Regions from separate parts of the Homo sapiens genome. Here regions 2, 3 and 4 are each linked to region 1. Evidence: fine-mapped expression QTL. A gene starts in region 1. Each other region holds a variant in brackets. All regions are shown on one strand. Distances are between the middles of the regions. Region 1 holds the start of PEPD (peptidase D). Region 2 overlaps PEPD (peptidase D). Region 3 overlaps PEPD (peptidase D). Region 4 overlaps PEPD (peptidase D).

Evidence for each region.
Region 2: its variant is fine-mapped to the expression of PEPD in skeletal muscle (GTEx, PIP above 0.99).
Region 3: its variant is fine-mapped to the expression of PEPD in whole blood (TOPMed, PIP above 0.99).
Region 4: its variant is fine-mapped to the expression of PEPD in whole blood (INTERVAL, PIP above 0.99).

Annotation. Positions count from the first base shown.
Region 1 is chr19:33,517,924-33,526,021 of GRCh38, reverse strand. PEPD (peptidase D) reads left to right here and starts at 4,231. Exons shown (of 15, transcript NM_000285.4): 1 at 4,231-4,278. The coding sequence starts at 4,262. LOC105372370 (a long non-coding RNA gene) reads right to left here and starts at 4,088. Exons shown (of 3, transcript XR_935918.3): 1 at 4,008-4,088; 2 at 2,526-2,601; 3 at 245-623. RefSeq lists enhancers at 3,004-3,966, 3,967-4,930 and a silencer at 4,022-4,221.
Region 2 is chr19:33,392,988-33,401,085 of GRCh38, reverse strand. The region is part of intron 12 of PEPD (peptidase D); the gene reads left to right. Among named protein-coding and RNA genes, the nearest start is that of CEBPG, 23 kb to the right of the region's middle. RefSeq lists enhancers at 4,164-4,993, 4,994-5,823, 7,811-8,098. The variant T/G (reference allele first, on the strand shown) is at 4,832.
Region 3 is chr19:33,405,775-33,413,872 of GRCh38, reverse strand. It overlaps PEPD (peptidase D), which reads left to right. Exons shown (of 15, transcript NM_000285.4): 10 at 230-298; 11 at 2,124-2,201. LOC124904692 (a long non-coding RNA gene) reads right to left here. Exons shown (of 2, transcript XR_007067229.1): 2 at 4,908-8,098. Among named protein-coding and RNA genes, the nearest start is that of CEBPG, 36 kb to the right of the region's middle. RefSeq lists an enhancer at 6,616-7,173. The variant C/T (reference allele first, on the strand shown) is at 3,235.
Region 4 is chr19:33,446,300-33,454,397 of GRCh38, reverse strand. All of the region lies in intron 9 of PEPD (peptidase D), which reads left to right. Among named protein-coding and RNA genes, the nearest start is that of PEPD, 71 kb to the left of the region's middle. The variant GACACCGC/C (reference allele first, on the strand shown) is at 4,635.

The DNA of each region.
Region 1 (8,098 bases):
AAATCCTCCTACTCTGGGACTTTGCACTCATATCTTTTGAAATTAGAAATTTCATCCTTTTTTTTAATCAAGATCTTGATATGGGATAATAAAATTACCAATGAATAGCCCTGCACAACGTGGGAAATGTAATAAAAGGTGAAGGCAATAAAAGGTGAAGCTTCTAGCCACTCCGCGGTGATACCCACTCGTAAGAAATAAAAGTAATTATCACCTGCCCAACCTGGTCGGCTCACTCTGCATGTGCTGAAGAAAACCATTTCAGAACTTTATTTCTTATATTGAATGTCGATAATTGGATGTATTTATAAGTCTCTCTGGAAGAAAACAGCTTGTGATTTCAAGATGGGAAAACAGTCTTCGAAACAGTGAGAAACAATATATTCCCCATTTCCACACACACAAAAAGAGCTTGTTTCCTTCGATGTTTTCAGGTGCTGTTGGAATGATTTGCTTTTCCGAAGCCACCGTTCCATTTCTCATCTTGAATTGCCTCGTAGACCCCAGCAAAGCATTCAGCAGGGACCACTTCATCTGAGGCGGTGATGGGGGCTTCCTTGGGAAGGCCCCTCAGCTCTGCCTGCCTCTTTTCTACAGGAAGATAGATGCCCAGGTGGGCTGGGCTGGGGGAGAAAGGAGAGGAGGAGTAGAACGTGATGTGGGGGCTCCTGTGAGGAGGGGGGTTGATGGATGGTGGTGACAGCTGGGGTGTAGGCCTGGAGGAAGGAGCAGGCCACACAGGCCTTTGGAGTGGGAGAGCTGTGGCTACCTCTGCAGGCCCTGCAAAGGCCCAAGGCTGGGATCTGCCAGAACCAGGATAGAGAGACGGTCTCCTGGGCATTCCACACCCATCACGCTCCTTGCTTTCCCACTTGGGAAGACACTGGGTTGCCATATGCCACCCTGCCCCTATCTCACACCCACAGTCCCCTCTATTCTTCCTCTTCTGTTTATTTGGTGCTGGCTTTCTGCATCCAGTCTTCTATTCTCAGCAAAAGCAAACAATCGCAAAACACCCAAATGCCATCTTGTGTAGGGCTTTGACCATCTGAGGCTGGCGGCCCCGTGCAGTGGCTTTATTGGCTCTTATTGGCTCTTTTCAGTTCTCTCTGCTAATCCTCCTGAGCTCCTGCTGGAGAGAGGGGTTTGGATCGGCAGCTTGCAGCTCAGAATCCCCCAGGATCTCCCCATTAGCCAAAAGCAGAACCCTCGAAGCCCCGTTCTGAGGCCCTCCCAGATGGTGGACTCCCCAGGGACAGTGTGGAGGGCTCCTCTACCTCTGTCCCCAGACCAAAGATCCTCTAGGCAAGGGCAGGGTCTGGATCCCTGGCCCTCACAGCATGGCCAGTCCTGGAGTGGCACTGTGGGCAACAACTGGGTGGTGCAGGGCAGAACCAGCATCCAGGCTACCTCCAGTGCAGTCCCACAGAGCCTCTGGTAGACCAGTGCCCTCAATCCACAGCAGAAGATGGACAGGGCTCTTCCCGGGGACCTCCCCTTCATGGCCCAAGGGTGGCTCATGAGTCAGAGCCTAGCAGGCCGCCACATCTGGGCCTGCCGTCTCCAGGCAGCCAGCTGTCAGCAGCGTCCACGGAGTTGCAAGAGTGGGGGCTAGATTGTGGGGAATGGGTGGAGGAGGGAAACCTGGCTGGACACAGTGTCCCGGGACACAAGAGGTGTCTTCCCAGGGTGAAGCTTCTTTTGCAAGGCCTGACGGGAGTTGGGGGGGCCCTTCTGGAGAATAATGCTATGCTGGCTACCGGGCTACCAGGCTGACCGAGTGCAGACATCTACCAGCCACCTGCAGGGCTTGACGAGAGGAGACTGTTTCGGCCACAAGGGCCTGTGACCTCGGAGGCAATGCCGCATGAGAGTGCTGCCTGGCGCGCTGCCTTGGCTGATTTACACACTCCCACTTCGACTCTCTAAAATCAATCTTCCCCCAATTGCCTCCTGGCTCCAGCAACGTCCTGGGTCTGCCCTGCATAAGTAACTAAATGGTCTTCTCCCATATTCTGGGCGGCTTCTGGAGCCCCTGCCACAGCCTCTGATGGGGAGGGGTGAGGGGTGAGGGGCAGCCCTGCCGGAGCCCCTGATGGGGAGGGGAGAGGGCAGGGGACCTGGGTGGGCAGGGGTCATGGGCAGTGCCTCCATATTACTGTCCACAAACAAGGGAGCTCCACTCAGTTGGTGGGTGCCTTCCTTCCATTATTTTGTGTTTGGGATATTGACTTCTTTTTCATATTAGTAAGCACTCAGAGCTGGCAGCTGGCTTAATTTTGACATATTTTATGTCAAAAGAAATGGTGGGAGGCAGGTGCAATGAATGAGCTGGGGGGTATGTTTTCCTTCCTTGAAGGCGCATGGAAAGCTCATTCTGCTCACCCTTTGTTATTATGTATTTTTTAAAGCGCCACTTACTAGGGAGTTGAGTTTCTTAAGCTGAAGGCGGACCTACTGCTTAACTAGGGGTGTTAGAAGTTCTCAGGGGCCCCTAGGCCAGGCAGTGGGGTGTGAATCCTTACCTCTGTTCTTCTTCCTGGAAACTGGCAAGAGGGTGGAGAGAGCTCCTCTTGGACCTTGCCTGGAGGTCAGGGACCCCTGCAAATTGTCCATGTGTTGTGGGAAGGGGTAGAAGGGATGAGGCCCCCCCTCTTCCATTAGCTCTCGTTTTCCTTATCTGGGACCGGGAGGTGGGAGGGGCTGTCTGGAGGGGCCACATTCCTCCTGGCAGCTTTGGTCTCTGGCTGTGCCTGCAGGTTTGAGTGTAAAACCCTCTAGCAGCCCTGTGAGGTGGCCCCATTAGCTCTCTCCTGACAGATGAGGACAGCAGGGATGGTACTGGGCTTCCAGGTAACTGTGCCACGTGCCCTTCACTACCCTGCTTATGGCTGGCTCCCTTGCTCCTATTTAAGGGGCCTATTCTCCTCCCTGCTTCATGGGGACAAACAGAAGCTGCTTCTCCAGTCATAGCCCCTGGCTCCCACCAGCCTGGCCATGGTGACCCACATCCTTGTTTCGATAAAGAAACAAGAAGCATCCCCCAACCCACAACCTTTGATCAGAAGCCACTTCCAGCTGTGGGACAGCTGCAGGGTGGGGTCAGGAGCCCCACACGCCTATCCTGGGCCACCCATCCACCTGTCCACACACATCTGTACACCACACACATCTGTACACCCTTGGCGCCAGGGACGCCCTCCCCCAACAGTGTGGGGCCCCCTTCCTTCACAGGGGCAGTGAGGTCACTCCTCAGGGTATGGCTTCATGAGCTCAGCCTCTGTGTGAGCACTCTCTGGCCTCAGTTTCCTCATCTGTATAATAGACTTAAAGATAGTCTCGACCTCATAGGGCTGTGGTGAGGTTTCTATGAGCTCACATGTGCAACGCATTTGGGCCGTGCTTGTAATGCCCTGACTCTGTTGGCAGTAGGGAGGGCAGCGTCTGCTGCAGGGTCCCTACACCTTCTCTGCAGGACTCTGCACCCAGTACCAGTGCCCAGTGGGGCAGAGGAGTAAGCCTTCTGGCAGACTCTCCCTCCTAAACCCTTCTCGGCTGTGCCCACTTCTCGCCTGCCCTCCTCCCTGGCTTCCCTTCCTCCAGCTTCTCCATTCTGCAGCCCAGGAAACCTAGAAAAGATCCTACCAGACTTAACTCATAGGCCCCACAGTGGAGGCCCCGCAGGGTCTGGCCCTTGCTTCCCTTAGGCTGCCCCTCTCTCGCGCACATTCTCCTGGACGCTGCACATTTAGAGTCCTCCAGTTGCCCCACGGCCTTTGCTCAAGCCCTTTCCCTTCTTAAACAAAAATCGCCACCTCTGCCCCGACCCTAGCCTGGGTCAGTCTCCCTCCTCTCCTCCCACGTGGTTTCTTTATTCCTATGTGTTCTTCTCCCGGGTGGGCTGGTACGCCAGATCGGGGACTGAACCAGAATCAAGATGTCCTCTGCTTCAGGACCTCCCTCCCACCACGAAAAGGCTGCAGATGCTGCCCGCTAACCCGACCTACTGTCTGCAGCCGGCAGCCCGCTCATTTATCCTGGCCGAGCTCTTGGGCCCCCAATCTCCGGGAGCCCCGCCCCATCGGGGCTCCGCCCTTCCCCAGGTACCGCCCCTTCCCGTCCCGTGGAATTTGGCTCTGGAGGAGGTGGGTCAAGGACTCCATGCCCCGCCCCCTGCCCCGCCCTTACCCCGCCCCATGCATTGGCACCCGGAGGGGCTCAGCTGACGCCGCACTTCACGTGACGCCGGTGCCGGGCGAACATGGCGGCGGCCACCGGGTGAGTGCTGCGCCTCCCTCGCTCTTTCCCGCTGGCGTGGAGAGGGGCATGGGTGTCCCGGCCGGACCGCGGGTGAGAGCGTCAGCCGGGGTCGCTGAATGCCGCGGGTAGGCGCCTCTTCCCGTTGGCCCGGAGTCCCAGCGCCGGTCGGCGAGCTGCACGCTCCGAGTCAGGGTCAGCGCGGGGGCCGCAGCTCCTCTCCACCCTCCTGGCTGGCTCCGGCCCCACCTGCCCGCGTCTGGCGGCCCCACCGTGTGCGGCTGCGGTGGGGGCTGGGGTCGACACGCATGTTCGCTGCCAAGACCCCCGGGTAGGAGGGCGGCGTTGCGAGGACCCCAGGGACCCGGGCGCTTCCCGGAGGAGGCGGTATTCGAGACGGACTTGGAATTCCCTTTTCCCAGCAGGGCACTTCCCCATTTCTTTCAGGGGCCAAATGTCACCCCCTCAGGGAATCCTTCTCTAACCATCTATCCCACTTTTTGTGCCCTCATCATCACCTGATAAACTATATAGAGCATTGTTTGTACTTGTTCTTTATCTTCTCTGCATTTAGAGTGCAAGGGCAGGTATGTTACCTGCTTCTCAGTAGCCCGGTGCCTTGCACACAGTAGGTGCTCCATACTGGGCTAAATGAAAGAAAGCTGAGTGGTCGTAGTGGGAGGAAGGGTGGACAGATGGGTTCACCAGAGCGTTGGGCGGAATCTCCCAGATAGGGAGCATCTGAGCCCAGGGTAAGGGACAAAGGTTGAGAGTTCAGAGTGTTCTGGGGACAGGGGTGCATGCCTGGGGCTGGTTGGAAGGTGTGGTGTTCCAGGTGGCGGCTTCAGACTTTGCCCTGATGGGCTGGAAGGGTTTTGTTACAAGCTGCTTGATCTGTTTTTTAAAGATTAGGCTCCCCTGAGCTATGTGTGAGTTCAATGGGAGAAGGTGTGGGTCTGGTGGTACAGTGGGGTAGAGGGGGCATGGTGTAGGAGGGAGCAGTATTCCAGATGCCAGGTTGGAAACTGAGGTCAGAATGGGGGATCTAGTGGACTGAATGCATCTCTCTTTTTAAGATACAGGGAAAATGGCAACAGAAAGTGGGTTCTAAGTTGGCCCCCAAGGTTGAGGGAGCTTAGAGCATACAAATCAAATATTTTGTGGGCACCTGCTATATTCCAGGAATAGCAGTGGGTCTTCCCTTAAGGTACTCACAGGCCACTGGAACAGATGGACACATGGGACTCTGTCATCCATCTGCTTGCCGTGTGGTCTTGCCATTTGCAAAGGAGGGGCATGGACTCTGAGCTCAGATAAAGTGTGGGAAGGCTTCACTTCCTGGGTGACTTTTGTGCTAGTCCTTCAGCAATGAGACTCCCTTCAGGTAGAGAACAGTGCAGACAAAGTCTCAGATGGGTGTCAAGGAACTCAGGGTCAGATCCTTGAATCCAGCCTGTGACCCTTTTAAAGGGTAGACTGAGCAGGCTGGTGCCCAGCTGTGGGTGTGCTGTCTCTCTGGTTAGGCTGGCTCGGTGCTCACAGGGAGTGCCAGGGGTTGCATTTGGGTTCAGGATTCCAAGCTGGCCTGAGACCTGCTGCTCTCCTGAAGGAACCAAGCTGATGTCTGGACGGGAGCAAGTCTGGAACTGACTGGATCCTGGAATGAGAGCTTTTCTTTTTCTCTTTCTTTTTTTTTTTTTGAGACGTAGTTTTGCTCTTGTTGCCCAGTCTGGAGTGCAATGGCATGATGGCTCACTGCAACCTCCACCTCCCAGGTTCAAGCGAGTCTTCTGCCTCAGCCTCCTGAGTAGCTGGAATTACAGGCGTGTGCCACCACACTCAGCTAATTTTTTGTATTTTTAGTGGAGATGGGGTTTCACCATGTTGGCCAGACTGGTCTCGAACTCCTGACCTCAGGTGATCCACCCGCCTCCGCCTCCCAAAGTGCTAGGATTACAGGTGTGAGCCACCACGCCTGGCCCCAGAATGAGAGCTTTTCTAGCAGAACCGATTCTCTGGGCCACCACACAGGGTGGGTGAGGGAGGCAAAACAGAGTGGCAGGTCTTAGAGAGGTCTGCTATTGAGAGGGTGTGGGAGCTTCCAGAGCCTGGCAGTCTCCTTGGGAAGAGCCATCCCAGTCTGGTATGGGGCTTTCCCATGTACTTTGAGCCTGAGGTTGACCCCAGTGGCTTCCTTTAGAGCAGAATGATTAAGTGTGTTTCCCGCAAAGCTCAGCTCCTAGCCACACTCACAGAACAGATCATAGAGTCAGGCATAACGAGGCATGATGCCAGCAAGTCACGGCCATTGCCGTGGGCTCACTGGGAGTTGGGTTTGGTTGTCTGTAGAATCCTACCAGAGCCTGGGACAGAGGGGGTCCATGAGAGTTCCAGGTGACTGGGGTGTGCCCCATATGATTTGGGGAGTAGGGGAAGCCCTAAACTAGCATCTCAGATTTAATTTGAAACTCAAGAATCTACTCTGAATGCATCTCTCTTTTTAAGATGTGGGGTGTTTCAGGGTTGATCCTACTTTCTCTTGCTAGCCTGGGTGTAGGCTTCAGGTTGAGACAGAGTGCGCTGAGGTCACCTCCCATCCCCTCATGGAGAGGGGTCCCTATCCCATGGCACTTGGTGGCACTGCTGCTGTCTCCTTAAGCAATGCTTTGAGCTTTCCACAGACAGGATTGATAATTTGAAATCTGTCAGCTCCAGCCAGACCTGTCTGCATCTGCTCTCCCACATGGCTTTTTCCATTCCCTTCTTCCCTTGCACACTCACCCAACTAGCCCTGGAATGTTCTTGTCCTCTATATGATTCTTCACGTATTTGCAGGCCCAGCTCAGATGGTTCCCTTTCCCAGAAGCCTTTCCCAGCCCTCGGGTAAAGGTTTAGTGCTCAGAACTCCAGAACACTCAGTTTTCTCCCCAGCAGTACACTTTTACACGTCTGCCCATTGTGGGTTAGGAGTTGCTTCCCTTCATGCCTCTCCTAGCATCCTTAGAACCCCTGGGGTTCTTTTGTATCCGCAGGGCCAGTCTGTGGCTGCCCTGTGATTGGTGCTTGGTGAAATGAATGAAAAGGGGATTTACTCTAAATTAGTCCAGCATCCCATCCTGCTTTCCTGGGAGACTCCCAGTGATTGAGGGAAGGAGTCATGGTGGGGAATGGGGACAGAATTCCGAGGGGTAGGATGAAGAAATAGCCTTAATTCTTTAACTGAGTGGCTCCCAGGAGCTGTTGCAGAGCCAAAAAGAGGCAAAGGTGAACTGCCCTGGACGTGTACCCCTGTTGAGCCGTAGGTTACACTGGAGTCAGCATTCTTCTGGAGAGTCTTCTGCAGAATTCACATTCTGGGTCAAGAGCCCAACCCCACAATGTGAACCTTGTGCTCCAGGAGCAGAAGACTCAGGCCGACTGGGGGCTAGGGACGGGTGGGCCTATGGGAGGCAGGCTGGCCACTGAGTATCCCTGTGCCTTCCCTGGCTCTTCCCCAGGTCCTGACTCCACACAGCTGTCTCTTGGTTTCTGTGTATGCTTGGCACCCCTATCCGCCCCAGGAGACAGAGGTGCAAGGTGGAGGTTGCTGGCCAGTTGCCTCGAGGTCCTGTTCCGCCGTGGCAACCCTCTCCAGCCTGGCGCTTACGGTCTGGTGCCCAGTGGGCTGCCTGAGCATCTGTCTGGTGCCTGGCCCCACGCTGGAGGCTGAGGGGAGGAGGTGGCTGGTCCTTGGCTGGCCTCTCCTACTGGGAACTTAGCGGTGTGACCCTGTCTAGAAGTGGCTCCACATTTCATTTTTTTTTTTTTTTTGAGAGGGAGTCTCACACTGGAGTGCAATGGC
Region 2 (8,098 bases), 120 kb after region 1:
CAACCCCAGGCAGCCTGCACAGGCCCCACTGGTACCTCTTGACCTCCCACCGCGCGCCGTTGATGTCTGTCAGGGCAGGCAGAGGAGGTCCCCTGGAGGGGAGCCAGCATCCTCCCAACAAGGCCAGCTTTCAGGAGTTCCCCCTGGGCACCTCCCGCTGTCCCCATCCCGCTCAGCCAGCCTCCTGCCGAGTGACCCCTGGGTCCTCCATAGCCCTGGCAGGGGTGGAGTCTAGCACCCACAGGATCGAACCCCAGCTCTCTGCCCTGCAACAATAGAAACCATTTCCCAGCAGTGATGGGAGGTCCTGGCTTGTCACCTTTGCCCAGAGGAGAGAATTGAGGGATGTGGTCTTCTCATGTTCTTGCTTCAAGCCTTCCAGGGCTTCAACACAGCACCCCTGCCGTAATCCTTGGATTCACCAGAGCCTGGGCAGGTTCCTATGGGATCACCATGTGCTGGCCAACCCCTAGGCCTGGCCCTCTACAGGCACATGGCTCCCACGACTCTGACTGAGATCTGTTCGGCAGCTGCCAGGGTCCAGCCTGCAGCGCAGAGGGGCTTTCCCTGCCCACACCGGCCCAGGCACAGCTGGCCCCCCAAGGCACGCAGGTTCTGCATCTTTGGTTATAAGCAACAGAACAGTCTCCAGCCAATTCGGTCATTTGGGGCTGCCACAAATTCACAGAGGTGGAAAATCAGGTCTGGGCTGGGGCCAGGGCTGCAGTGGCACAGGACAATGGCCCTGTACTCACAGCTGGATCGTCTGGCCAGGGCCCGCCCTCAGCACACAGGCCCCAGCCACCTTCTGCAGCCTGGAGTCCCTCCATCTGGGTCGAGGTCAGAGATCACCTCGTGTTGGCCATGCCCAGGTCATAGTCCAGCCCCCCCAGCTTGCCCCCACCCTCGCCCACTGCCTCTCACCCACAGCTATACAGACCTCCAGAGAGACAGGCAGGCCCAAGGCAGCCCCCTGTGTAGGGGAGCTCAGGCGTCCTCCAGGAGCCAGGTGGGCTTACCGCGGGCAGAGGGGATAGCCCAGTAGCGCAAGGCTTCAGAGTCCAGGATGCAGGCCCCAGACCCAGAGTGCCCCGAGCCCAGCCCCAGCTCTGCCGCCTGCTGGCCAGGTACCTTACTTAAGCCCCAAACAGGCGAAGGATAGACCCCTGCTCTCCCAAGGCAGAGTCCACTTCAGAGCGGGCCTGGCCAGCTCTGGACCGTGGCATCTAGTTAGACATGGAGTGCCCTCTGTTAAGGACCCACAGAGAGCTGGCAGCTGCCAAGTGCGCCCTCAGTGTTCAAGGAAAAAAGAAGAAAGAAAGATCTGGAGCCTCCAGAATGCGGCCTCAGAACTTGATGGCTCGGCGGTCGACTGAGCAGTCCCTGCGGCCCCACAGCCCGTTGCTGGGATGAGTTGCAGCCTCGATCGCCGGCCCAAGTGTGCTTCAGAGGGGCCCTCAGCCACCGTCGCTTTCAGAGGAGGCAGACTGTGGGCAGGCCTTTGCAGATGGTGCCCAGTCCAGCCTCCAGAGCCCCCACCAGAGGCTGAGGAGCCGCGGAGGGACGCTGGGGGCAGTGCCAGGCCCCAGCCCCACACCTTCACGCATCCAACAGGAACAGAGCTTGACAAACGCATGAGTGCAAGCAGGGGGACCCCAGATGTGCCCCAAAAGGAAGACAGGACAGAAAATCCAAAAGTCAATAAGCTTGTGATGGGGTGACAGCGCTGATCGGACTCACCTGGTTTAGCAGCTGCCGAGGAAAACAGCATTTTCTGCGGAATTGCTTTGCTTAAAAAGCAGCAGGCCGGGCTCTGTGGCTCACACTTATAATCCCAGCACTTGGGAGGCGGGCGGATCACTTGAGGTCAGGAGTTGAAGACCAGCATGGGCAACATGGAGAAACCCTGTCTCTACTAAAATTACACAAATTAGCTGGGCGTGATGGTTCATGCCTGTAATCCCAGCTACTCGGGAGGCCAAGGCACGAGAATCGAATCGCTTGAACCTAGGAGGCGGAGGTTGCAGTGAGCCAAGATCACACCACTGCACTCCAGCCTGGGTGATGGAGTGAGACCCTGTCTCAAAAAACAAACAAAAAGGAGCTGCCACCCCTGAGTATGAATATACAGGTGTCTCCAGGCAGATGGGTGGGTGAGGACAGAAGAGCGCCAGAGGGTATGGCCAGCGGGCCCTTGTGGGTAAAAGGAAGAGGGAGTGAGAGCGTGAATTCCCGTGCGCCTGTGAAAACCATAAAGGAGGTGCAGGAAGGGACGGGACAGTTTGCTTGCTGCGTCCCTTCTTATTCTTTCTGACTCTTCAGCCATGGGAAGCATCCCCCGTTAGCTGTCAAATCCAATCCAGCCTCCACGAAGCAGTCGCCCAGGGGCGCCACTCCTTCTCCTTCCTTCATTCTGGGGATGAGAATTTCTTGCTCAGTTTTAAATACCACTAGTCACTCGAATGAATGATCAGTGTTTCAGATCCAGCAGGAGGATTTGGCAGGTGAGCGTGGCCTGTGGTGTATTCACCTAGTATCTGTGAGCCCAGCTCCTGTACCCTCCACGGAGAGCCCTCCGCCGGGCACAGCCTCTCAGGTGGGCCAGAGTCTCTCAGACACCCTTCACGTACAGGGCTGGCCTCCCACTCTGTAGCTGTGCCAAGGTGGGCTGTGTCATTGCGAACTGTGTCACCATCACATCAAGTGGTAGTGTCAGACATCCACGGGCAGTCGTGAAATCCAGATGTCCAGAAAGTCAGAGCCCCAGGCTGCAAGGGGCTGAGCCTCCCAGCGGCGAAGCAGAGCTTTGCAGCCTGTGAGGGGCGGGGGCCCACCAAGCCCAGCAACCCTGTACACCCAAGCATCAGGCTGAGGAGCTCAGCTTGGTCAGCAGGCAGTGCCGGGCCCATCAGGGTGCCAGAGGTAGCACCAGGCCACGGGGAGCAGGGCGGCGGATTGACGCAGCATAGGGGCCAAGGCCTGGGGGGTGTTCGGTGGGAAAGCCATTGTCTTACCCCTCAGTCTCCTGTGCTGAAACCAGGGATGGCCCAGCCCTGGCTGGCCTCACCTGCAGGAAAGCCTGCTGCGGCCTGGGCAGGACCTGGGTGGCATCTCCACAGCTGGCATCCTGGCCAGCTCCCTGGCCCAACTCAGCAGCCCCAATTCTGTCCAGAAAGTGGCCAGACCTCGGGGCAAGTCCCCAGGCCCCATGTGGCACTGAGAAAGGCCTGAGCTGGGTCTCCCATCCCGTGGTGCTGCCTGGTTCATGCTGACTCTTGGGGCAGGCACAGGCCTCAGGCCTGGCAGGGGTGTCTGGGGCCACAAGGCCAAATCCAGCTAGGCTCATCTCAGACCATGGGAGGCAGGTCCTCCCCCAGCCCCGCTCCCACCCACCACTGGGCTTTGCTGCCCAGACCCAGCCTGGGGTCTGGAGGATCCCTGTGTAAGGGAATGGAGCAGCCCCCCAGCAGCCCCCCCACACCTACCACCCACACTGAGCTGTGTGGCATTGGTGTCCCCCAAGGGCAGAGTCGGACTCCATCTGGATCACACACAGTGAAGGCCCGTGGGGCAGGCCCTGGGCCCACAGAGCTGCCCTCCGGATGGGGCAGGTCGCCTCCCGTAGCATCGAGGAGGCCGTGGCCAGGTCAGCCCCCTGCCTTGTCCCAGCGGAAATGCCCTGGGTTCGTGGGTTCAATTCCTGGGCCAAGACAAACACCCCACCGAGACTGCCCGACTGCATCCTGTGACCTTCCAGGGAGAGTAAATAAAGCAGGAAACCCCATAGCTAAGCCCAAAGGAGAGGCAGGAAAGAATGGTCAGGACCCTGGGGGGTTGAGGAATGCAGGCCTTGGCCCCTGATCCTAGGGCTGGTGGGGGAGCATTCCTCACTGTCATTCACAGTCGGCGAGGAAGGAGGCTGCGCTCGCTCAGACGGAGACCCTACCCTGGCGGCTGGGAGTCCACAGGCGGGTGGCAGGGCAGGCCCAGCAGCTGCAGGACCTCGGGGAGTGCCATGCACGGGAGGTTGGGTGGGATCCAAGCTCAGCGCGGCTCCTGTGTTGGGGCAGGCTGCCCACCCCATGCAGACCCCTGCATGCATGGTGAGGGGAATGGGGGGAGGCGCTGCTGGGACGGATGGGCGAGCCCGGCAGGGTGGCCCTGAGTCAGGGTCTGCATTGGCACAGCCACAGCAGGAAGGCTGTTCCTAGAAGCAGCACAGCTGTCCCTGTCCCGCGGGCTCAGTCCCTGCAGCCACCCTGGAGCTCCAGAGGACCCCAGCACTGAGGGCCCCATGCCCTCCGCCTGCAAGCCCCAGAGCCTCCTGTAGCCTCGCCTCCCAGCCCCGACCCAGCTCCCTCTCTCCTCACCCCCCCACCCTCCCTGGCCTCCCCGCCTTTCTCTACTCTTTCCTGTGCTCACCCAGGAGCCTCCTGTGCCCCTGTCACTGGGGGCCCAGCTCCTATCAACCTGGAACAGCAATGGTGGCCCACGATTCATGAGCTCTTTTGTGTTTCGTTCCCCCGCTCCTGGCTCTGTCCCTGCCCTCAGGGTCCTGGCCACTTGTGAGTGACGGGGGTGCTGCCAATGTGAGGTCAGAGGAGGGGAAAGAAGTGGCAGGAAGTGTCCCCACCTCCAAAACAGTCCTGACGGGGCGAGAGAGGGGCACTGAGGCGCGGGATGACCAGGTGGCTGGGAGAGGGGCCCAGCAGCACCTGCCCCGGCCCACCTGGCATGTGTCTCCTGTGGCCCCGTGGTCAGGGGGCACCTCTGCCAGCTTTGCTCCCCTCCCAGCCAGCGCCAGGGGCAGGGGCCCAGCAGCTAGACTTCC[T/G]GTCAGTCCTCATCCTCCGAGACGGCGTGGAGTGCAGGGCTCAGGCAGATAGGCATGGCGGCCATGTGCCACCCCAGTCATAGATACCCTCTGCGGCAGGTGCCAGGACGGGGAGGACTGTCTTCAGTGTGGGCACCATGTCCACCCCTCCTGCCGGCCGCAATGGTGAGCCAGTTCCTTGGCCTCTTCTTACTCCTCGGGGCACTCTGCCAGGGTGTGGGGGAGGAGACTCGAGGAGCAGCCTGGGCCAACACAGCACCCTGCTCTCACGCAGGGTGAGTGGGTCCCCAGAATTTCTGGCAGCAGATGGGGTTCTTCTACTCACGTCCCGTGCAGGGTGGGGTGAGCTGGAGGTCCTCAGCCCCGTGCCAGCTCAGCCAGCCCTCAGGGCCTGCCCTGGGACCCCGGCCGGAGCCTGCTGTCCTACACCCCTAGAGCCTGGCTCACACCCATCCATCCCGAGGGCCATGTTCCACAGATGAAGTGCGCTCTTTGTCTGGAGGCAGCTCTGAGGATGCTGCCTTTGTAGCTCGGTCAGGCCCGGGAGCCCCCTGGGGCTGTCACACTCCGGGTAGGAGGCCTCGGGGCTGTGATGGATGCTTTGAGGCTCCAAGGAGCTGGCCTGGGCCCTAGGCCCAGCAGGAGCGGGTGCTGCCTGAGGAGACCAAGTGGACCCAGAAGACCACTCAGGGGCTACGCTGGCCACACCTGGGGCCTGGGTGGCAGGAGCAGCGGGGCTTGTTCCTCTGAGCCCTGCCATTTCATGAGGCGCATGATGGGACACTAACCTAGAGGCCACCCTGCCCGTTCTAGGGTCTGAGTACACAGAGGAGTGGGGGATGGGGCACAACACTGGCTGCAGGAGAGCCATGAGAGAAGCTGGGGCTCCTCTCCTTCCAGGCGTTTACCAAGCATCCGCAGCATGCCAGGCACAGAGCAGAGTACGGGCACCACCCTTGCAAGGCCCAGAGGTCATAACCAGGCCCAGCTGTGCTGTGTGTTCCGTGAATTCTCAAAGTACAGGAAGGGGTAATCAGAGAGGGCTTCCTGGAGGAGGAGCCTCACCACAGAGGCCCACAGGAGGAATGGGAGCACATCTGGGAAAACGGGCTTGGAGGAGGTGGCCCCAGCTAAGGAAACAGCAGGTAGGGAGGGCCAGTTCTTGGGACCCGTGGCCTTGGTCCAGCCACCCCACCCAGGAGTGGGTGAGGGAGAGGCTGGAGACCAGGCCAAGCTGAGAACCTGGGCTTCGTCCGGGGCCGGGAATGGCCCTGTTTGCCCCGTTCGTTCTAAAGAGATGGCCCAGGCATCCAAGGGGTGTGCAGCGGAGGAGGGAGCCAGGCAGACTCCAGGAGGGGTGGGGCAGGTGCAGGGGTGCTTCGGGAAAGCCAGAATGAGGTTTGGTGCTTGCTGGGGGTTGGGGCACGCAGGGCAGCTGGTGCCCAATTTCTGCTGTGTGATTCTCAGTGTGGCATCTGGGTATAGGCTGGCTAGGGGCCGGGGGTGCCTTCCAGCCTGGACTAGAGAGCTTGACGGTGTCTCCAGGCTGCCAGGGTGGGAGGAGCCTGAGAGTGGGCCCAGGCCAGCAAGGGAACCCTCAAGTTGGTGCCCACCCTGCCAGCCTAGTGCAAGGACAGTGACCCTCACACACTCCAGGGGCCCCCGCCCAGGCGGTGGGTGTCGTAACCACCATCCGGGCCAGAGGCTGGGGCCAAGTTGCTGGAGGTTGAATCACTGTCACAACCCTAACCACACACAGGCAGAAACTCCCTGCTCCCGGCCAAGAGAGCTGTGTGCAAGGCCTTCCCCGAGGGTGCACAGGCAAGGAAGACCAGCGGCGCCAAGGGGACCCCCGGGCCGGCACATCTGGGCGGCGCCGGGCCTGCCCCCGGGAAGGGCCACCGCAGAGCATGATTTATACCTGATTCCCGCCCTCTGCGGAGGCTGGGCCAAGAACGTAGCCCACTGCTGAAGTTAGCCTGGTTGGAAAGCTGGCTGCACTTCCCGGGGCTCCCCTTTGGTGACCAGAGAAGGGCGCGTCCGAGAGGAAGCAGTTGAGCTGGGCTTGGGGCACGAGCCACTCACAGGAGGCCTCCCAGCCCCATGTGCCAACTTTGCAGGCTGTTGGGAGACCTGAGGGGCACTCACTTTATGCCAGGCCCAGCGGTGCCCTCGGGAGACCCCCACCCTCGGAGTGAGACATGAGAAGCAAACGAGCAGATCCGTCCAGGGGACGGCTGCAGGCTGGATGGACCGTGCAAGGAGAAATCACCAGGCCTGGGACAGCAAGGCAGGAAGGTCTCCTCTGAGAGGGGACAGCTTTTATGCAGAGACCCCTTGGATGAGGCATCACAGGTCAAGGCCTGGCACAGGCCATAGCAAAGGGCCTGAGGTAAAACGGCCTGTGTGCCTTGGGGTGGTCTGGCCTCTGGAGGATGCAGCAGCAGAGAGGAAGGGCGAGGTGGGCCAGGATTGTCCGGGCTGGGTTCTCAGAGAAGAGCAGCAGCAGAGGCTGGGCAGGCTTGGCGCACACCCCCAGGAACAAGTGAATGTCAAGTGTGGAACCAGGGCTGGCTGGTCATGCGCGATGGAGGAATGGTGGCCAATGCCACTGTCCGGGGTGCTGCCTCCAGCCCCCAGGTGACACAGAGGCTCTGAGAGCAACCCCCCGGGGCCTGCCTTGTGGCTGTTTGTTTGTTTGACCAGCGGCAGCTGAGGCTCACGGAGGTGGGGCTGTTTGACCAGCGGCAGCTGAGGCTCACGGAGGCGGGGGAGCGGCCAAGTGGGCTGCAGTTATCCAGGTGTCCTTTTCCGGGATGTTGTGCCCCTCAGAAAAGCCAGGGGTGCGGGCTGGGCCAGCCAGGGGTGTGTGTGCCCAGGGCTGCCCCAGATACAGGGCAGCTGCAGCCAGAGTTGCCCCAGGTCTGCCCGGGCTCTCCCCCACGCCAGACCCCGGGCTCTCCCCCACGCCAGACCCCAGACCCCGGGCCCTCCCCCACGCCAGACCCCAGACCCCAGACCCCGGGACGGCCTCCCCGACGCCAGACCCCAGACCCCGGGACGGCCTCCCCCACGCCAGACCCCAGACCCCGGGACGGCCGCCCCCACCTCAGCCCCTAGGAGGCTGGGCTGATGGGGAGCTGGGCTCTGAGGAGGATCCCTGCTCTGTGTGGGGGGTGGGGGCAGGTCTGGGCATCTCCACCCCTGCCACCCTTAGGCTGCTGCCGTGGCTGGGGCGCTGTGCTGTGAATGGCGGGCAACAGCCAT
Region 3 (8,098 bases), 110 kb after region 1:
GCTGGGCCCCCAGCTTCTCTGTCACTCCACACTGGCCTCTGAGATTCTGCAGCCTATGACTGACCCCCAGGCTGTAAGCCTCACAGACTCACACTGAGAGTTTGGACCATTGTGGGGCCACGGCAGGGGAGACCATGGGCCGAGGGCCTTCCCTTGGGGTTCATGGGGCTCGTGGAGTGGGGTGTGCCTGCTCTAGTGCCCCAACCCTGACGCGTCTCTCCCCCTGCAGCCTCTTCGAGCACTACTGCTACTCCCGGGGCGGCATGCGCCACAGCTCCTACACCTGCATCTGCGGCAGGTAAGCGGGGCACCCTGGCTCCCCTGGGGGTGACCAGTGGGAGGAGGTAGGGCAGTTAGTGAGTGGGGGGCTCCACCATCCCCCAGCTCAGCCACACTTGCTCACTCACACGCCCACACCAGCGCCCGGCCCAAGCTTGGAAGTCGCTCCTCCCTCCCAAGACTCCCGGAGCTGAGGTGGCCTCTGCCTGCAGGACCTGGCACTGGGTGAAGGAGGGAGCATGGCCTGCCCACTGCAGAGGGGCTGCTTGGCGTCCCCTCCCTCCTGTCCCCAGCTGGTCAGCACAGCAGCTAAGCACAGGAAGGCCACTCCTCCACACGGGCACACACACAGCATGTGGGGACCGGGCTGTGAGCTCAGGCTGGGCAGCTTCTGTGTGCAGCAGGGGTGGAGTGTGGAAGGGTCAGTGCAGAAAGTGGTGGTGGTGTGTCTATGTGGGTGTGGCTGCGTGGGGACCAGTGCTGCTGTATGTGGGTGTGCATGTCACTGTTGGTGTGCCTGCTCGTGGCACATGGTGCCGAGGGGCAGGGCTCTGTGTGGGTGTGTGCGCTTGGGTGTGTGCCATCAACACCTGGCTGGGTGTGCTTGGAGGCACACACATGGTAGAAATGACAGTGATATGGGATCATTGCCATGCTGTGTGGGCCATGCACAGCGGCATGTGTCCCTTGGGGTGTGTCTGCCCCCACATGCGTCCTGGCTGTGGGCGTGGCCCCCTCGTCTCCTGCGCTCTCCCAGCCAGTCTCCCTGCTCTCTGCCCCTCGGGTCTGGCCCCTGCCCGGCCAGGATGGAGCCAGGCAGCTCTGCCAATGCGCACGTCCCCGGCACATGAATAATACATGTGAAATCTCAGTCCTTGGAAATGTTCTTCTCTGGTGGATGGAGAGAAAACCATTATTTCTACTTTTATGATTCCCAAGACTCCTGAGCAGGGCCATAAATATTACACCCAGGTGGGGGTTTCCTTCCCCCCTTTGGACAGACTTAAAAGTCCTTTTTTTCTTAAAGGCATCGCTCATTAGGGAAGCCTTCTCAGGCAGAGGAGCGAGGATCCTCTTGGTTTCCTCTCTCTCCAGCCTGGTCAGGACGCCAGGGCAGCTCCAGGACAGCCGGGGCCCTTTCCATAGAGGCCCTCTCCCCTTTGGCCACCAGGAAAGGAGGGGTTCCGTAGGGCCCTTCTCCAGGCCCAGGAACTGCTGTTCCCCTTTTTTGCTCTTTTTTTAATTTAAAGACAGGGTCTCCCTCTTTTGCCCAGGCTGGAGTGCGGTGGCATGATCATAGCTCATTGCAGTCTCCACTTCCCAGGCTCAGGTGATCCTCCTAGCTCAGCCTCCTGAGTAACTGGGATTACAGCTGTGAGCCACCTAACCCAGCTAATTTTTTTTGCATTTTCTGTAGAGGTAGGGTTTCGCCATGTTGCCCAGGCTGGTCTCGAACTTGTGGGCTCAAGTGATCTGCCTTTCTTGGCCTCCCAAAGTGCTGGCATGACAGGCGTGAGCCACCACACCCGGCCCATTGCTAAGTTTTACATGTGTTCCACATGATGCCCACATCCCAGCCCAGAGGGCAGCCGCCTAACGACGCCTTCAGCCAGGAGGCTCTGCCTGCAGACTGAGGCTGGTTGCCAGCCATGTGACTGCGGGGTGACAGGGCCACCATGTCCCCCGGCCTTACCTCTGGCTGTGGACCTGGTCCAGCCACGCCTGGGCCTGTGCTGGAGGTGGGGACAGTGCTGCTCATGGGCAGGGGATCGAGCATCCACCCCCTCCTTCAGAGCCTGCTGCAGAAGAATGGGCTTTGATCACCCTCCCCCGGCTCTTTGCAGTGGTGAGAACTCAGCCGTGCTACACTACGGACACGCCGGAGCTCCCAACGACCGAACGATCCAGAATGGGGATATGTGGTAAGTAGGGCCAGCGGCCCTGGCTCTGTGTGTGAACAGCCAGGCCAAGGTTGGACTCAACTTCAAGATGGCCCAGAAGCCTCTGGGTCCCTGTCCTGAGAGGGCTGACCACAGCAAGTCCCTGGGCTTCTTGGCCCAGACTTCTCTGCCAAGGCTATCGGCCTGCGTGGTGCCTTCTCCAGGGCCAAAAGCCTGCACCCCCCAGGGAGCACTGAGAGAGAGGGTGCAGGAGAGGGGCCCCCGATGGTTTCCTGTGGGCCATGGGATTGTGGGCTCTCTGAGGGGGCCTGAACCATCCCCAGCCTCTGTCCAGGCTGTCCTCTCCGTTCAGGGGGCACCACGCTCGCATCTTTCTGTCTTGGTGCCAGGAGGGCAGGCCTCTTGGTCTGGAGCTGGGAAGACCGCAGGGAGCCTCCCACGCTCTGAAACCTGCCATCCTCCTGCTGCAGGAGCCCGTGGCCTCTGCGGCCCTGCGTTCAGCAAGTCAGCAGTGCTGACCCGTGGCTGCGTGCAGGGCTTTCCTGAGCACGATGTGCCGTGCTCACAGTTCTTCATAGAAGCCACGACAAGGAGATGTGGGCAGGCCCTGCGGCCTCCGCCCCTCGGGTAGTCTTTTCTCTCATTGGAGGACTTGCAGTCCTACCCACAGCCCCTCGGTGTGCAGGGCAGAGCAGCTGGGCCGCTGCCCCGGGGCAGGGAGGAGGTGTGTGAGTACTTGCAGCCTGGCCTCTGCTCAGTCCCTCCGCGTTCTTTGCCTGTGCCCTGCACGTCAGATGTCAGCCAGGGCCAGCCCAGGCAGTGCAGAGCTCCTGAGAGCTACCCCAGTGCTGGAGCCCTGGGGCTCAGCCACAGCCACGCAGGCCCTGTCTTGGCCTCCAGACATTTCACTGTGGTCACTGACTAGCAGAGGATGTGCCTTGTCCCTCCCAGTTCTTTGGTGCCCTTTCTTCTATGGCAGATGCACCCGAACAAGCCTCCTGCAGAGCCCTCTGCCCCCCAGCAGCATGGCATGTCCTCTGAGGCCTGCGTGGCG[C/T]CCAGCTGGGCTGCCTCCGCCTTCCCATCGAGGAGCCACCCCAATGTGCCAGCTCCTCCAGCGGGAGTTCCCATGATGGCTGCTCACCGGCCTGGACCCCGCCTCACCCTACAGCAGGTAGTCGTGGGAGCCCACCCCCCAGAGTCCCCAGCCATGCCCACTGAAGGACAGGAACACACATGCCCAGACCTATGGACAGACAACCAGCTGCCCAGAGAGCTGCCGAGCGTTGAGCTGTCAGGGCCGAGTATTTGCAGGAACACACTCAGTCTCGGGGTCCTCCCTGCCCTTGGGCACATGGCCTACTGAGACTGCCCGGGCTCCCCGCTCACCCAGGTCCATAGCTGATGAGCTGTTCCAGCTCAGGCCATGCTGGCAGGAGCTCAGCTCAGACCTTGGGTGGGGCCAGCATATGCCGCCACAGTAGGGCTGTGTTAGGAACACGGCAGGTTGAGGGTGCAAGCGGAGGCAGGCCAGTGGAACCGCCACCCACTGCGCGCTGGGCCTTAGTGGACTCCCTGGCCTACCCGACAGCACTGGCTCCACGGATCCTGGTTCACTCTGGCACCACAGTGAGCCCCACAAATGGTGGGCGAGTCCCCAGTCCCCCCTGCGTAGCCACCGTGCTCGGGGCTGGGAGGGTCAGAGCGGAGCTCAGCTTTCCTCCTACATGCCTGGGGCCACAAGGTGACTGGGCCCTTCTTCTGGGTCTCTGTGGATTTTCTCACCCACTCCTCGCCCTGATCCTGCGATGTAGGCACCTCACCCCATGTGTGGGCCAAGGAACTCAGACACAAGGAGGGCACCAGGCCCAGGTGTGAGGCCAGAGGCACTTGGGGAAAGAATTGGCAAACTCAGACTTGGCTCAGCAGGGGACTAGAGCAGGAGAGGGGGTGGCAGCCCTGCCCCCACACCGTGGACCCACCAGTGGCTCCAGACACCACCTGGTGTCCTGAAACTTTTTAAGAGACGGTCTTGCTCTGTCTCCCAGGCTAGAGTGCAGTGGCACAATCATAGCTCACTGCAGCCTCAAACTCCTAGGCTTAAGAGATCCTCCCACCTCAGCCTCCCGAGTAGCTGAGACTACAGGTACAAGCCACCATGCCCAGCTAATTTTTTTATTTTTAATATTAAAAAGACAGGGTCTCACCATGTTGCCCAGGCTGGTCTGGAATTCCTGGACTTAAGTGATCCTCTTGCCTCGGCCTCCCAAAAGTGCTGGGATTACAGATGTGAGCCACGGTGCCCAGCCCTGAAACCTTTTCTAAAGCTCTTTAACCCTGTAGCGCATTCTGGCTGGGCCTGGAGGACAGGACATGGGAACCCAGTCTCACGGCAGAGGCCACATCAGTGGGTCCCCACAGTCCAGGGGGCACTTCTGGGTGGCTGGAGAGCCCTGTGCCAGAGCCACGTGGCCATGAGCTTTTCTCCTCTGTGGGCTCAGCACACCCCAGAAGAAGTGACTGCTCCTTTATGACCCTCTTTATCTGCCCCGGAGAGGGTCCTGGCATAATCCCAGATGCTGTGGCCTCGGCCCTCCGGGACAGCACATGGCACCTGCATCTCCCAGCTGCAGCTGTAGAGGCAGGAGTGATCCGAGGATGTTAATGCCAAGTCCAAATTGGTGATTTGATTTTTCTAGTGCTAACTTTGAAATGTAGCCAGTAGAGTAATTATGAGTTTATTGTAGTCAATTTATTATGCAGCATTTAGAACAACATGTTTTGTTGATTACTGCTACTGCCAGATTGCTGGTGGCATTTATAGTCCATTGTTGTATTGAAATTGATCTGCCGAGCGCCTACTGCGTTCGGTAAATAATAAATCAGTCTGTTATCCCAACATGAAAGCCACGATGCTTCATCCTAAGGTATGAAACTAAAGCATGAGCCCAGCGTAGAATTCCCCCGAAGCCGAGCGCCTCCCAGAGCAGTGCGCCTGCTGCAATGGCCTGCTCTGGGTTTTAGTCCTTTGACTGGGGGAAGACACCCCAGAGATATTTTAGCTTCTAGGAATGGGATTTTGTGGGGAATCAGAGCTGGTCCAGGGCAGCCAGATTATACAGCTGTACTGCAGAAGGGTGGGGGGTACTAAGAGGAGGCCAGCCTTTTCCATCCCTCTCTCCACAGTCCCAGATATGAGCACTCCCCCAACACGCACACACATGGATACACACACAGGGAACTGACCGAGGCTGTGCTGCGTTGCAATGATCACAGTGTAAGCCCCTGCCTCCCTCTCTCGCAGTGGCCACCTGGCACAGCGTGGGCCCTCTTCGGGCAAGAGCAGCAGGCCCGGTGTCCTCACCGAGCTGGGCAGGCCAGGCCCTGATGCCCACTTCCAGCAGCTGGTTCTGCAGCACAGGCTGGAGGTGGGAGCCACAGGCAGAGCTCAGGCCAGGCCTGGTTTATTCTCAGACAGCTCCCGTCCCCTGGTTGTCCTGTTCCGTGTCTTCGACCCAAAAGTGTCCTCCATGATGCGTACATCAAGCGGGGTTTGGGGCTGGCTAGGCCCCCCTCCTACTGCTCCGTCCTTACCCTTCCAGCAGCTTCCCTGGAGCTAGGCTGAGTCCACTGTTGGCCACAGTCATGGTCCAAGAGGGCCTATGAACCAGACACCCTGGTTCCTGCTTCAGGTCAGGCTTGTCAGCCAAGGACTGAGACAGACTTCCTGAGGGCCGTCCCTCACCCCCAGCCAGCCACCCCCGGGCCCCTTCCCGCTTCTCTGGGTGTGATGCCACCACACCCACTCGCATGCACGCAGGGGTGAGGGACGGGACTTTGTGGTGGCTGCATACACCCTCAGCCTGGTTCAGAGCCAAGCGGCCCCATGTGGGGCCTGTAGCCGTCAAGCCTCCGGGGGTTTTGCTGTTGTTCTCAGAGTCTTTTCCCGCTGTGATCCTGGGGTTCGCCATGAACCCCATCTCCAAGTCACTGTACCAGAGGGGCCATTCGCTGCTTTTTTTGTTTTCCTTTTTAAACCCCTCAGGCAGACCTTCAAGAACAGGGTTACAAAAGCGCAGCACACTTGCTAATTAACACTTTCAACATGTTCACACAGATTGAGGTGCCTGAGATCACTGGAGGCCATTCCTAAGTGGGAGGCCCCAGAAGACCCCTCCCCACTCACTCCAGCCCCGAACAGGTTTGTGTGAGCACAGAGGTGGCCAGGACTCATCCCCCTGCTTCTCCTGGTCGTCTTCTGAGCCCCCATGTGCTGCCCCCTCCTTCCACAAACAGCCTGGGCTGTGGGCACCAGAGCCACTGCAGGCCAGCAAGCTTCGCAGCTAGGGCAGGGGGCGCATGGTCCACGATTCTGGGAAGCAGTGCGCCCAGAGAGGGACCATCCCTTGCAGCACTCCGGGCCTGAGGCCGCCCCAGGTCCTGGAGAGGCTCACCCCACAGGGCAGAGGTGGAGGGCTCTGGTTGGGAAAGCAGCTGGGACACTCCTCCTGCCTCCCTCACTTCCCGATCAGGTGGTGGGGGTTGGAGGGGGGCCTTAATCTACTGTGGCCCCTCGCAGAGTTTCTAGAGCACGTGTCCCAGGATGCCCCAGGCCTTGGTTGTCCCAGTCGGGATGCAGCTGGTGGGCAGCAAGCCTGTCCTTCCAGAACTGGCCAGAAGAGGGCAGTGTTGTCTCAGGACGATGGGCCAGGCCTCACCCCTGCTGGGCCTGGTCTTTTGTGTTGCTCCTGGGCATGGGGGGTGGGTGGCCAGCCTGGCTAGGAGGAGAGACCTGTCCCAGCCCTCACACTCAGCAGCCACCAGTGCCCTCTTCCCCTCCTTCCCTGGCTAGATAATGGCGAGACCTCGACCCTGCAGGCCATGGGGTGCCCGCTCACCCAGGACCTCAGCAGCCACCTTGGCCTCACATGGGCCCTGCAGCCTGGGATGCGGCCAGCCTACTCCTGCTGTCTACTCAGCCTGAGTCTGTCTGCCACCATCGCGCTGCGGACCCCATGGGTGACAAGCTCCTGGGGACCCCCTTGCCCCACTCCACCTGGGGCCCAATGCTTTGGTGAGCTCCAGGGTAGAGCGTTGCCCCCAGGCCTGCTCTCTGCTGCCTGTCCCAGCCCAGCTCTCCCCCACCACCTTGCTGTTTCCTCCGAGGGAGACTTGTTGTCACCAGCCAGCCCTGCCCTGAGCACTCTGCGGTCTTAAAGACATGCTCTTGGGGCCACAGAACGCCCTCAGGAGGGTCCAGACCCACAGGCATGGCCGTCCCATCCCATCCCAGTTAGGAGCGTGCTCTCCATTCTCACCCGTCCTCATACACATGGACAGGCCTGGTTATGAGCAGACACCTGCCCACGCGTTTTCGGTTTGTCTCTTGTTTGTGCTTCGTGGCTGCACCCTCCTCAGCTGATGTCATGACCCACAGTTTGAACAGCACTTGTCCAGACATCCTGGGTGCTCCCAGACATCATGAGACACTGGTCACCAAAAAAAGCAAAATACAGCATGTGCTGCGCGTGTGACTCTCCCTCCCGCCTGCCAAGGCCACTGCCCTGACGCCCGGGCCTCACCCCACTGTGCTTTCCTGGCAGCTGTCCTTGTGTCTCACCCACCTCTGGACGAGGCACCCCACAGTGCTCTTCTGGGACCCGGGGCCCCTCACTGGTGCCGTGCCTCTGTCCATGTCATGCATAAAATGGCAATGCCAGTTCCCTCCAGACACCCAGGAGGCCCACAGGACGCAGCTGCTCCCGTCACCCACCGCGTGCACCAGGGATTGCTGGCTCTGGGGACCAGAAGCTGCTGCTGTCATGGGCTGGCGGCATGGGCAGCTTTCCTGTCTGCCGAGGCCCTGGAGGAGTGGCCGTCACACGAAAAGGGGGCAGAGATGCCCAGGAACGCACTGGAGA
Region 4 (8,098 bases), 72 kb after region 1:
ACTCTTGCCCTCAAGTGATCCTCCCACCTCAGCCTCCCAAAGTGCTGGGATTACAGGTGTGAGCCACTGCGCCTGGCCTCTTTTTTAAAAAACTTGTATAGACCCATGGATATTTATTTTATACTTTATAATCCAGTATTCTGTGATGCTCAAATCCTTCCAGCTTTGGGCATCGAGGGCTCTTTCGTTTGACTCCTGTGTCTTTCTGATGCACCCCGTCATTTTAGTTTTGGAGCATTCCCTTCCTTTCTGGCATTGCGGGTTGCACCGGGCTCATCTTGTCTGTTCCCTGCTCCAACCTCAGAGTTAGCCATTTCACTAAGGAGCCCGGTTCCTTTTATTGGAGGATGGTATTAGAAACCAAGATTGGGTGCTGGGTGCACCTTAGATGAATTTTATGACCAGACGTCCTGGTGCAGAGCCAGTGAGGCATCCCAGTACACACTACTTTATTGTGGTTTATCAGGACTTTAAGAAGCCGACTTAGGAGGCAGTATAGTAGAGTGGGTAGAGCATGGTCCCCAGAGACTAGTGTTCTTGGTTTGGGTCCCAGCTCTGCTGATTACCAGCTTGGGCACATTGATAACACTACCTCAGTGTCCTCATCTGGAAAAAAATAATAGCACTTCATAGGAGGATTAGGAGGATCCAATGAATTGATATACAGGTATACCTCAGAGATATTGCGGCTTCAGCTCCAGACTACTGCAATAAAGCAAATATTGGAAATTTTCGTGTTTCCTAGTGCATATAAAAGTTATGTTTGCAGTATACTGTAGTCTCTTAAGAGTGCAATAACATTATGTCTCAAAAAATCAATGTACATGCCATAATTTAAAAAGACTTTATTGCTAAAAAATGCTGACACACACAAAGTGAACACATGCTGTTGGAAAAATGGCACCAGTAGGCTTGCTAAACGCAGGGTTGCCACAAACCTTCAATTTCTAAAAAAAGAAAGCAAGGCACGGTAAGATGAGGCATGCCTGTATGCATAACACATGGAGCAGATGGACATCCACTAAGCATCCTTATGGTGCTTGTTGTTGCTTTTTTATTTATTTATTTATTTATTTATTTTTTTATGACAGTGTTTTGCTCTACTGCCCAGGCTGGAAGGCAGTGGTGCAATCACAGTTCACTGCAACCTCAACCTCCCAGTCTTAAGTGACCTTCCCCCCTCAGCCTCTGGAGTAGCTGGGACTAGAAGCACGTGCCACCATGCCTGGCTAATTTTTTATTTTTCTGTGGACTTGGGATCTCATTATATTGCCTCTCCAACTCCTGGACTCAAGCGATCCTCCTGCCACGGCCTCCCGAAGTGCCGGGATTATAGGCGTGAGCCACCATGCCTGGCCATTGTTGTTATTTTTTCACTAGCATTTTATACAGGCTCAAAATAGGAAATTGAGCTATATATTTTTTTCCTTTAACTCTCTTAGCCATATTTTGAGACCAAGGTTTTTGAGATCATGTTTTGGGAAGCACCCCCATGTTTTTCTGTTTTCTGAAACAACTTGGAAAGCATAGGGCTTGGCTGTTTCTTGAAGGCATGAAGTCCTTTGAATCTCTCAGACCCTGTTGTTTCTCTGGGGAAGATTTCTTTGGTAACTTTTCAGATTTTCCTATGGGATTGTTTTAGTCCAAATTCATCACTTTTAGAGTCAGTAAGTATGTTTTCCTATAAAGTCTTAGTTTTCATCAAAGATTTTACATTGTAACCAAGTAACCAATTTTATTCTCATATATTTTTAAAATCTTATGTTTTTAAAATATCTCCTTTATATCTGTAGCTGTTTTTTCTTTCTCATTCCTAATGTAACTTGTGTTTTTTCTCTATGGATTATAATTGCTAGAGTTTTATCTTCTTTATTGGCCTTTTCATAAAATCAGCTCTTAAATTTATTTTTCAGTTCTACTGTTGGTCAAACTCATTGATTTCCAGTTTTATTATTAATTCCTTTCTCCTCTCTTCCTGAACCTTGTTTTGACGCATCTGTCTTTTAACTTGTTTAGTTGAATCTTAGTTTATTTTTTATTTTTTCCTCTTTAGTAATAAATAGATTTTGGCTAGTTTATTTTTGAATACTGCCTTAGCTATATCCTGGTATGTCTAGAGTGATTTGTTTTTGAACCTAAGAACTAACCTAGTGTATTTCTTTTCATTTCCCAGTAGATGTGGTTGAATTTTTCTTGGTGACCTTTTGGTTTTTAGCTGCTAGTTCTGTCACCATTGGAGCTAGAGAATGCAGCTGGTGTGAATCTTTTTGGTTTTTAATTTTGAAGTTTTTCTTCGTGGCTTATTTAAAAATATTTTGGTCAGTATTTTATGGAATACTGGAAAGTGTTTAGTTTTTATCTTTAGAATATATACTTTGGTGTACATGAATCAGGTTTATTATCTAATTCCAGTCCTCTGCCCCCTCCCCTATTTTTGTATATTTGCTCTAAGATTTAGAGAGATGGTTTTATAATTCTTTGTGATTCATGATAGATTTTGTCTTACTCATTTCCATGATAAATTGTTTGAGGCATAAAAGTTGATGATTGTTATGTCTTTATTATATATTTTGCTTTTTATAGCTTTCAAGAAACCCCTTTTAACCTATTTAATCTATGTCTTGAATCTGACTTTGCCTGACACTGGTGTTGCTATGTTTGTTGTTGTTGTTACATTTTCCTGGCATATCTTTGCTTATCCCTGTATTTTTAACTTTTTAAAATAGGTTGTTTATAAGGTGCAGCATACTCATTGTTCAAATGGAGAGCCTCCCCGTGTTAGGAGAGCTGTTTGAATTCACAGTGATAATCAGCATCTGTTCTCTTTTCTACAGCCTTATTTTGTGTTTTCTGGTTTCTGTTTTTTCCTTTGTGGCTTTAAAAAAGTTTTTCTATCTTTGGAAGGTTGGTGAAATTTCCTTTGCTCACTTTTATATGTATGCCATGTTAAATGTAGAATCACCTTTAAATCAAGAAAAAAAGACCTGTATTTCTGTTTTCTACTTATGTTCAAAAGTTAAACAATTTTAATTTTCTAATTTTAACAATTTAACAATTTTAAGTTTCTAATTTTCCTTAAAAAACTAGAAAATTTTCCTTAAAAAATTAGAAACTTAGCATAGTTTTGATGCAAGGCAGGCAAGCCCTAAAGTGGGGCTTATCCCACGAGGGTTCTTGGCTTCACCCAGGAAAGAATTCAAGGGTGAGCCAGTAGTAGGGTAGGAAGAAACAGCTTTATTAAAGCAGCGGTGTTACAGTTCAGGCATTGTGACAGCTCCGTGACTACCCCTGCAGAGCAGGGCTACCTACAGGCAGTGTGCTGAGAGCCGCAGCTCAGGGCGGTTTTGCAGTCATATTTATACCCACTTTTAATTACATGCAGAGTAAGGGGCAGTTTATGCAGACATTTTTAGGGAGGGGTTAGTAACTTTTGGTTCATCAAGTCATTGCTATGGAAAGGGGTGGTAACTCCCTGGTGTTGCCATGACAATGGTAAACTGACATGGCGCACTGGTGGGCGTGTCTGATGGAAAGCTGCTTTTACCTGGGACCTGTTTTGGCTAGTTCTCCATTTGGTCTGGTGTCCGAGCCCCGCCTCCAGAGTCAAGTCCCGCCTCCTGCCTCAGTTTTACTTTATAATCTCCCTTTCCCCTACCTTCTAGTTTTTTATTATATAACTTCTTTTTCCTTTATTTTCAACATTTGCATTGTCTTACCATCATTTTACCAACGGTTATTTAGTGAGCACTGTCTCACTCAATCCAATGTGGACCTCAATTTTGTACCATGTTTTCCCTTTGCTCGTGTGAGTGCTTTAAGTTTTGATTCAGTACTTTCAGTGCCTTGCTTGTTGGAGGGTTCTTTTGTTGTCTCCTGCGTGAATGGTGGCTTCAGTGGGTATTGACTCTTTGTTCCATAAAACCATTCCCTCCTTTGTTGCCAGAGATCTTTAGCAAATCATATTCCTCCTTCTTTCCAGGGAACTTTTCATTTTCTTGCCCTGGATGCTTATAGGACTATTGATTCTTGGAAGTAACAGTATTTCCTGAGGATCTGTCTCACTGCCTTTCTGGGCAGGGGCTGCACTTCAGGGCTTAGAATCCTGCCAGCTGTCTGGGAGGACCAGGAGAAGGCAGGCTCCTTGGGAAGGGGCACAAGCCGGGGCTTGCTTAGCCTCCAAGTTCTTCAGCCAGTAGGCAGCACGGGGGGTCTGGAGGGACGAGCAACTCAGGCCATAAAGTTCACATCGGGTGTGTTCTGACCTAGACTGATAAAAAGTCAAGAAGAAGCAGTCACACCTAACACAGAGACCAGGTGGTGCATGTGACAGATCTGCGGAGACAGAGGCAGCTTGGCCACCAGCAAGGCTGGTCTGCACACAGTGGACAGGCCAGTGGCAGTGGCCACTCCTGCACCCAAGCGGGGGCATCACATGCTCTGCTTCCTGTCTGTTACCTCCCTGGTCACTCCCAGAGGCAAGCATTCATCCCCTTGGGTCCTGCTACCTGAGACCTGTGATATAATTATTGATCATGTCACCCCGGACAGATTTCATTCCCTGGTTTCTCTGTGGCTTCCTTATCAGTTTCAGAAGGTAACGTGGCACCCGCTGGGATCGGAGCCATGCACATTGG[GACACCGC/C]CTGGGGTGGTCCCTGTGAGCACCTGCGATAGTCTATGACCGACTTCTTTCATCTGAGCAGTGAAAGCTTTCTGCATCTCAGGGTCATCTTTGAAATTCCTCCTCCTCACGTACTAGGTCTCCTGGATGTGATCCGGGGCTGTTAGCTTCCTCTCATGATGTCCACTTGCGCACCAGTGAGAAACTCAAGCCTGTCTCCCATTCTCCTGCTGTGACCCTGCACACTCGTTCTGCTGCTGTTTTCTTGTGTGCATTTTGTGGCTTGGTCCCTTCCTGTTTTGGCGCAGGCTTCTCCGGTGAGCTCTCCTCATGGATCCTGAGAAAACATGGGCTGGTGGATCTTTTTAGGTTTCCTCTCATTTTTCACCCAGGAGACCTCTCTGGCTCTTTCTGCACAGCTGGCCAAGAGCTGTCTGATTGACCCCACCATGCGGGGCTCTGCTGAAATTGCTCAGGCCCAGAAGAAAGGGGGAGGAACGGTTTAGGTTGCTTGTAGGTTCACTGTGCAAGATGGGCGACCCCAGAGGAGCTGAGGAGGGGGCTATGAGTTGCACCAGGTGGTCCAGACAGTACCGAGTCACCTCGGTGGACATGGAAGATGTCTTCTCTACAGTGGGCCAGCTACCTGGAGTTGGCTTTGGCCACACCCCCATTTGCTGCCTGCCTTCCCCCGAGGCCCCTGTGAGAGTGGACTGCAGCCTCTGGGGGCCTCTGTCCCGTCAGGGTCTTGGTTGGGGAGTGTGGGGAAACCCTGGGTCCCCACCTCTCATTCTCCAGGAAGAATTTTCTAGCAAGAGAAAGGCCAGAGTTTATATACTGGTGGCCTCTGGGCCACATCCAGTACACACGCAGTTTCCGTTTGGCCCAGGCAATAGGTATTTTAACACTTTATTTTGGTTCATTGAAGTCAACCAAATTTGAAAAATCAGATTTTTTTGGCTTTTCCTGAAAATCAGAGTAGCTGGTAACCGTGGGCTGGAATTTCCACAGAGCAGCAGCGTGGTGCTTGCTACATAGCTTTCGTTCAGGGTGCACGCCACAGGCCCCACCGCTCCCCGTCACCTCCCCGAGCACTGAAGCCGACTCTTTTCATGGCTTTCATGCTGTTGGTTCTTTCATAAATGAGAAAGCCTTCTCATACCAGCATCTCTATCAAAAGAGAAAAAAAAGATAGTCGAAAGGGTCATGTATTTCAAGAAAAATAGGAGAGCTCTGGGGAAAAAAAAAGACTTTTTTTTCTGTTTTGCATGCCACTACCTGGCCAGCTTCACTCCTGTGGGTGCCTCCAGGCCTCTGGAGCTGGTCCCCCACTCTAAAGGAGCCTTTCCTGTTCTTCCATGCCGGAAGGAGCCCGTGGTAGATGGGAGGGTGTTTAGCTGGGCAGGTGGACCAGACGCCCACCTCGGAGGTGGCTGTGTCCTGTCTGGTTCTGCCCGTGAGAAGGCGTGGCTCCAAGTCCTGGGCGCATCTAGTGAGGAGCAGCCCCGCAGGAGCAGTTATTGAGGTTTGGCTCCCAGAACAGGCAGGCAGTAGTGATTATGCTGTGAGGTTTGGTGCCGGTTTTTAGAAAATCCTCATCCAGACCTATCACCTGCTGGTGCGAAAGACGCTCCCTGCGGGAGTAATTATTCCGGGCCGTGAGTTTTTCTCCTCCTAGCTCTGAGTTCTGTGGATGACATGAATGGTTTCATCCAGGAAGGGCTGTCTCCATACCTGCCGGCAGGCATGTCTGCTCTTGAAGCCTGGAGGTAATTTATGATAAAACCAAAGTTGAGGCTCCTCCCCATCCCTGTTAGATACTCCGACAGCAGGCTCTGTGTTCCGGGGCTGTGAAGCTGAGTTTGCGTCCTCAGGAACCTCCCGCACAAGGCCATCCTCTGCCTTTGTGGTTCAGGCTGAGGGTTTGGACTCTGTCTGTGGCATGGAGGATGGGCAGTGTGGGTCTTCGTGCTTCCTCTGGCAGCTGTCCAGGAGGGAGCCATGGGCCTGGCCACAGCTGCCTTCTTCAGCTGCCCCAGAGTAGGGTGAGGAAGCATCTTGGGGGTGGCTGAGCAGGAGGGAAACTGGCCTGGCCCCACCCACTCAGCCACCGTCCTCTCGCAGCTCCCTCTGGCTGTGGATTTCTGTTGGCTTCCGTGTTACAGGTTTTGAACAGGCCTAGATGCCCAGGAGCCAGGCTGCTGGTGGGCACAGGCTCCATCCCATGTCAGTGACAGGCCTCAGACTTGGCCTGGGCTAGCACGCCCCTGCCCTGCCTGCACAAATGCTATTGTCACTGCCATGCATCCCGGGCTCCTGCACCTGCAGGAACTTGGCAGGGGGACAGCGGGAAATGGATCTGGGGTCATTGTCACTGCTGCCCACAGAACCAGCCAGCTTCCTTCATGTGAATTCCACCCTCTTGTTAGAAAAGCCCGTTTTGTGGAGGCAGAGCCCCAGGGTCCATGAGTCTGTGTCCCTCCTCACCCACAGTCATCCGGCACTGGTGCAGCAGTGTTCCCCTGGGGCCACCCTCCATGAGTGTGCCACAAGCCTTGTGGATGCACCTGTGACAGCACTTGGGGTCCCCTCATTGGTGAGTGGTGATTGCTGACCTCCATGTCTGCACCTGGGGATAGAACTCTTCCCATGTCACAACCTTCAGAAGCAGCACGGTGGCACAGGTGGCCCTCCTGGGCATCCCAGCTAGGGCGAAGTGCACCATAGCTACTTCTCCAGCCCAAGGTGACCGCAGTTCATTGCTGGAGGGCCCTGGCGGTCTAGTCCCCCACACAGCCAATGTCTGGGTGGCTGGTTGAGTCGGAGCCTGGCTGGGCTTTGCTGGTGCTGTTTTACTTTCTTACTGTCCATCCCAGCAAGATAAGAGGGGCTAGATGCCCTTCGTGGGGCCTGCTGATGGCTGTGGAGACTGGCGCATAGACTGGACAGTGGGAGGCACATCGGAAAGCCGTGGTCCTGGGACCCTATCAGCAGAGGTGGCAGAAAGGCCTCACCACCCTCGGTGCGGGGTCCTGATGCCCGCTGGGCCCTCCCCTCTGGGTGGTGAGCAGCCGTGGCTGAGAGCATGCTGCTTTTGCAAAAGGGGTCCCAGCTTCAAGGCTGGGGACCGAAGTTCCTCCTGGATGCACTGTGCAAACAGGGGACCCCTCACTTCTGCTAGGCCAGCATGTGACTGTGGGGCTCTCGGCCACCCTGTGCTGAGAGGTCGCAGAGGCTTGGGGATGGCATGGGCACCTGGTGCTGGTTGAAGCTGGGCAAGTGTCATGATCCCACGGGTGAAAAGACTCCAGAGAGTGTCCACGTGCCCGGGTGGGTCTAGGTCTTAGCAGCCAGGATGACCCGTCCGGTGAGGATGCAGCCAGTGCGTCTCTCCCCAGTGTTGGCTGATTCATAATAGGCTTTAAGCAGTCCATATATTTTCAGCATGAGCTGGAGTCTTTGAATCATTTATCTTGGC